Homo sapiens: one gene and its partner. The protein of the gene in region 1 purifies or fractionates together with the protein of each later gene. This does not show direct contact. Each region holds a gene or a part of one and is shown on either strand. Other genes may lie near its edges.

Region 1 (3,657 bases):
CCAGAGACTCCGTTCTTCCAGGAATAACCATGTTCTTCACCTTCTAGCGGATGTGGACCCCTTGGGGATGCTCTTTGGAAAGCCATGGGCCCTTTTCCTCTGGGAAAAAAAAATGCCCACAAGTGCTTACATAAAAAACAGTGCAGGTGATTTAGGAGGTTTCAGGGCCCTTTGCAAGTCCCTCTAGGGACCCTCCATGGCAGCATTTCTCAGAGCTGTCCAGCCTCAGCCCAGCCGCAGCACCAGTCGTAGTCCCAGCCCCAGCCTCGGGTTTCAGATTTTTTGGTTTTGCCTCAGAATCGCATTGGGGCTCTTGCAACCAAGGGAGAGGCCTGAGCCCAGCCCAAAAGCTACTGAGCCCCTCAGGTCAGAGCGCGTAGCATAGTTACCCAGTGCCCACCTGGACCCAGGGCTGCATGTCTGCTGTGCAACTGATCTCCATCAATCAAACCATGATTGTGCCCTCAGCTCAATCTCAATGTTTCGGAAAAATGTCCAAGTAGCCTCACAAGACACACTGAGAAGAGAGAAGGCCTTGCACAGTGTGCAGGAGGAAAATAGTCTGTGGACAAAGGGCTTCTAGTGACACCTTTGTGACCTTCTGGCAAGTGGTGGCCTGATGTTTACACTGTGACACGATCTTCCTGAGGCCCATGGCTCCTAAAAGGCAGCTAGAGGCTGGGAGCAGTGGCTCACACTTGTAATCCCAGTGCTTTGGGAGGCCAAGGTGGGCGGATCACTTGTCAGGAGTTTGAGACCAGCCTGGCCAACATGGCGAGACCCCATCCCTACTAAAAATACAAAAATTAGCTGGGTGTGGTGGTGGGTGCCTGTAGTCCCAGCTACAGGGAGGGCTAAGGCAGGAGAATCGCCTGAACCCAGGAGGCGGAGGTTGCAGTGAGCCGAGATTGTGCCACTGCACTCCAGCCTGGACAACAGAGCGAGATTCCGTCTCAAAAAAAAAAAAAAAAAAAAAAAAAGGGCAGCTAGAGACACTTAGGAAGACAGGTGCATCAGACCTTGGGGTCTCGGGGGCATGCAGCCACCCTGGTGTCCAGCCGGCTTGGACCTGAGGCACCCCTGGCCTTCAGTGGCATCCAGATTGGCAATTGTGCTGTCTCTGGTGGCCAGTCACCAATGGTGTCTTTTCATTTGTTTTTTAGAACACAGGCATATTTTTCAAATAGTAATAATAACTATTTATATTCAGCTTTGCAAAATGTTTAGTATGTGAAAACAACTATCCATGTTGTTACAATGTCACTATAAGAATTTTCCTTTTCCCCCCTACCACCCTCCGCCCCCATCAGGTTCTCACTCTGTCACCCAGGCTGGAGTGCAGTGGCACAACCATGGCTCACTGCAGCCTCAAACTCTCGGGCTCAAGGGATCCTCCTGCCTTGCCTCCAGGTAGCTAGGACTACAGCTGTGCGCCACCATGCCCAGCTAATTTCTGTAATTTTTTGTAGAGATGGGGGGAGGGTCTCAATATGTTGAGGGTGGTCTGGAACCCCTAGCCTCAAGTGATCCTCCTCCCTTGGCCTCCCAAAATTAATTTTACTTTTCTGAAAGATATTTGTAACAGCCTTGTTGAGGTATGATTGATCTACCTAACCTGCAAAACCTGTATTTAATGTGTAAAATTTGATGAGTTTGGGCATATGCAAATAGCCCTGAAACCATCACTACAATCAAAAATAGCCATCAACGGCCAGACAAGGTGACTCACACCTGTAATCCAAGCACTTTCGGAGGCCAAGGTAGGTGGATTGCTTGAGCCCAGGAGTTAGAGACCAGCCTAGGCAGCATGGTGAAACCCTGTCTCTACAAATAATACAAAAATTAGCCAGGCATGGTGGCACATGCCTATAGTCCCAGCTACTTGGGAGGCTGAGATGGGAGGATTGATTGAGCCTGGGAGGTTGAGGCTGCAATGAGCCATTGTCATGCCACTGCACTCCAGACTATGGGACAGAGACTCTGTCTCCAAAAAAAAATCTATTCCAAAGCTTCCTCATGCCCAGTTGGTTTTTTGCTGTTTTGTTTATTGGAGATTTTTTTGGTGGGAACCCTTAACATGAGATCTGATCTCTTAGCAGCATTTTCAAGTGCACAGTATAGTATACGCACTATTTTTTTTTTTTTTTTTTTTGAGGCGGAGTTTCACTCTTGTTGCCCAGGCTGGAGTGCAATGGTGTGATCTCGGCTCACTGCAACCTCCACCTCCCGGGTTCAAGCAATTCTCCTGCCTCAGCCTCCCGAGTAGCTGGAATTACAGGCGCCTGCCACCATGCCTGGCTAATTTTTTGTATTTTTAGTAGAAACGGGGTTTCTCCTTGTTGGCCAGGCTGGTCTGGAACTCTTGACCTCAGGTGATCCACCCGCCTCGGCCTCCCAAAGTGTTGGGATTACAGGCGTTAGCCACAGCGCCCAGCTGTATATGCACTATTATTAACTCTAGGCACAGCGTTGTACAGCAGGTCTCTAGAGAGTATTCATTTTGCGTAAATGAAACTATACCCCTTGAATAGCAGCTCCCATTTCCAAGTCCCTGGCAGCCACCTTGCTTCTCTCTGCTTCTCTGGGTGCCCATGGCTCTTCATAGGGGAGTATAGCTCTGCAGACCACCTCTCAGCCCTGTCCATTCCTTCCTCCTCGGCCCTTGTAGTGAGCTGAACCATGACTCCCAGAAAGATAGGTCCATGTACTAACCCCCAGAACTTGAGAATGTGGCCTTATTTGGAAACAGGGTCTTTGCAGATATAATTAAAGATCTCGAGATGAAATCATCCTAGATTATTCAGATGGGCCCTAAATCCAATCACAAGCATCTTTAGTAGCAACAGAAGACACAGAGGAGACAGCCATGTGAAGACAGAGGCAGAGATGAGAGCGATGTGGCCACAACCAAGGAGCATCGGGAGCCCACAGGAGCTGGAGGAGGCAGGGAGGATTGTCCCTAGAGCCTTCCAGGGAATGTGGCCCTGACGACACTTTGATTTTGTTGGTCTGGCCTCCAGAACTGTGAAAACAAACATTTCTATGGTTTTAAGCCACCAAGGTTTGTGACAATTTGTTATAGCAGCCTCTAGAAGCTAATACAGCCCTCAAGCCATTCCCTGGGCAAATCAGCATGCAGCGATGGTGGGTGGGGCTGTGGCTGGCCCTGCTGGTGGCAGGAGGCTCACCAGCACCCACTCATCCCATACCCCAAGAAGGTGGCTGGAGGATTGAAGCCCTAAGGAGCTGCTCAGTCTAACCACACAAGGACAAAAGGAGAACCATGGTGAGAAATTTTCTTTTTCGCAGTCGCCGTTTACTTAGAAACTTCGCTGAAGCAGAAGCATTCATCCATCCATCCATCTAAAAAATATTTATTAAGTACCTACTGTGTGCCAGCAGCTGCTAAGCACACACCCCTTGCACTTCAGAGTTCCAAGTTCCATATTCCCCTTGGTTTTCTAAAGGGGTGTTTTGGGCACAAGAGGCTCCTCCCAATGACTAACCACACACATTTTGGCACCTGCTGTGTGCCGACACTGGGAGAGGCAGAGCGCATGTCACCTGTGGTGTCTGATGTGGATGACATCCCATTCCAACTGGAATCTCACGGAGTGAATTCATCCCAGAAGGGAGCTCAAGGAAGGGCTCCTCCTC
Region 2 (2,777 bases), on another chromosome or scaffold:
CTGAGGGGCAGAGTGGCCGTGTGTGTGCACGGAGGGCAAATGCTGTCTTCCAGGTTACTGTGGAAGGCTGGGTGTGTTGTAACCTTCTATGGGTCACGAATGCTGTGCAGAACACAGTAACACTCTTTCCCTTCTAAAATGTCCTGACCTTACACATTTGACCCACAGCTTTAGGGATTTCATGGACAAGCCCCATCCACAGACCTCAGATTTAAACACTCCATGTCTAGACTCTTCTTTGTAGCTCGCATCACCCATCAATAGAAAAGCCCCCAAAGTTGCAAATTCAGTTGAAAACCCTGACTGTGCTTTCCTAGAATTTAGGAAATCTATTTCTCCGTGTCAAGTTACTTCTGTGGCAGCTCCTTAAGTATGTACCATCCCGCTGCACCCAACTCCATGCTAGCAGGGCAGGCTGGCACCCCACCACTGTCCATGCAGGCTCTGGGGGTCCCACCTGCTCCTGCAGGCAAAGCTAGGCAGTACGATACACAGAGGTCTTGGTTTTATACAGAACCTTTAATTGCAAAGAACTTGAAAGCAGCCACGCTGGGGGTGGCAGTGGAGTGGAGAACCCACCACACCCTCCCCTCAGTATTCTTCACCTTCTTCAGCCTCGGCTTCCACGGAATCCACGCCCACCTCTTCATAATCCTTCTCCAGAGCTGCCAGGTCCTCGCGGGCCTCAGAGAACTCCCCCTCCTCCATGCCTTCTCCCACGTACCAGTGCACAAAGGCCCGCTTGGCATACATGAGATCGAACTTATGGTCCAGGCGAGCCCAGGCCTCCGCGATGGCCGTGGTGTTGCTCAGCATGCACACAGCCCGCTGCACCTTGGCCAGGTCTCCCCCAGGGACCACCGTGGGGGGCTGGTAGTTAATGCCCACCTGCCGGAGAAGAGGAAGAAACAGTCCATGAAGCTTATATCAAACCTGGAAATGGTGGCTGCTTTTCCTCAAAAAGAAGACACCCTGTAGGTGAACAGGAGAATTCTCAGTTCACCCCACAAATGTCACTAAGCCCTTCTCTGTGCCAGGCAGGGTGACAGTTCCAGACAACATATGTTGCCCAGGCTGGCCTCAAACTCCTGGGCCCAATCGATCCACCCACCCCAGCCTCCCAAAGTGCTAGGATTACAGTCATGAGGCAGCATGCCCAGCATTTTTTTTTTTTTTTAAGAATAAGGTATTTTCTAAAGGATTTTTGTGCCCCTTTCTTGGGTGGTAGAATTCATGTGGAAAAGGTAGGTTGAACTTAGTAATTTTATGGGCATTTTGGGGAATCTTGTAGGTGGTGTATATATTTTATTTTAACTTGGGCATTACTATAAACTGCTTCACAACATCATTCGTTCCACTGTCTCATGTAGGGTTTGATTTAAAAAAAGAATGAGTTGTTTGTGATGAAAACAGCAACAGGTGCAGTGGCTCACACCCATTATCCCAGCTCTTTGGGAGGCCAAGGTGGATTTCTTGAACTGAGTTTGAGACCAGCCTGGGCAGTATGGCAAGACCCTGTCTCTACCAAAAATACAAAAAAATTAGCTGGGCATGGTGTCATGCACCTGTGGTCCCAGCTACTCAGGAGGCTGAGGTGGGAGGATTGCTTGAGCCTGGAGGGCAGAGGTTCCAATGAGCTGAGATCCTACCACTCCTTGGGTGACAGAGCAAGACCCTGTCTCAAAAAAATTAAAAGGCCGGGCACGGTGACCCACACCTGTAATCCCAGCACTTTGGCAGGCCGAGGTGGACAGATCACGAGGTCAGGAGATCGAGACCATCCTAGCTAACATGGTGAAACCCGGTCTCTACTAAAAATACAAAAACAAAATTAGCCGGGTGTGGTGGCGGGCGCCTGTAGTCCCAGCTACTCGGGAGGCTGAGGCGGGAGAATGGCATGAACCCAGGAGGCGGAGCTTGCAGTGAGCCAAGATCACGCCACTGCACTCCAGCCTGGGCGACACAGCAAGACTCCGTCTCAAAAACAAAACAAAACAAAACAAAACAAAAAGCAGCAACGTCTTTATTTCTTTTCCGGGAAGCCTAGTAATTTTGGCCTGGGTTTGCCTCAGACACAAAATCTGTCCCCACCTTCCACTGACACAAAAGAAACCTTGCTGTCCTCTTTCAGCTTTATCAATAGTTGGTTACTAAATCTTGTGGCATTTCTCTGTTGGGCCTGTGCGTTCTTGTGCTGTGCTTTCCCTGCTGCCTCTGGCTCAGACCCCCACCGTCTCTGTTGGGGGAGACCACTGCAGTCAGTTCTGACTGGGATTTCCTACTGTGGGTGTCTCTTCTTCTCCTTCAGGGGTTAGCACAGCTGCTGGACTAGCCACCTAATTTTGTAAGATCTTGTCTGAACACAGCCACCACACCCCTTCATTTGCAGATTGATTTTGCTATCCGACAGCAGAGTGGGGTAGGTGTGACAGAGGTCGTGTAACCTGTAAGGCCTAGAATTTGTATGATCTTGTCTTTTTTTCTTTTTTTGAGACAGAGTCTTGTGCTGTCACCCAGGCTGGAGTGCAGTGGAGTGATATCTTCTCACTGCAACCTCCACCTCCTGGGTCCCAGTGATTCTCCTGCCTCAGCCTCCTCAGTAGCTGGGATTACAGGTGCCCGCCACCATACCCGGCTAATTTTTGTATTTTTAGTAGACACGGGATTTTGCCCTGTTGGCCAGGCTGGTGTCAAACTCCTGACCTCAGGTGATCCGCCTGCCTTGGCCTCCCAAAGTGCTGGATTATAGGCATGGGCCACCATGCCCATCCAATTTT

What was found.
Region 2: the proteins of CFAP77 (region 1) and TUBA3C purify together in Homo sapiens (affinity purification with mass spectrometry, with the first as the bait; 3 studies listed by BioGRID). This does not show direct contact.

Annotation. Positions count from the first base shown.
Region 1 is NC_000009.12:132,567,052-132,570,708, reverse strand, and holds part of CFAP77 (cilia- and flagella-associated protein 77), read right to left. Parts: intron 1-3,657. UniProt on the Homo sapiens protein: Microtubule inner protein (MIP) part of the dynein-decorated doublet microtubules (DMTs) in cilia axoneme, which is required for motile cilia beating.
Region 2 is NC_000013.11:19,173,272-19,176,048, forward strand, and holds the end of TUBA3C (tubulin alpha-3C chain), read right to left. Parts: intron 889-2,777; coding exon 592-888; 3' UTR 501-591; downstream 1-500. UniProt on the Homo sapiens protein: Tubulin is the major constituent of microtubules, a cylinder consisting of laterally associated linear protofilaments composed of alpha- and beta-tubulin heterodimers.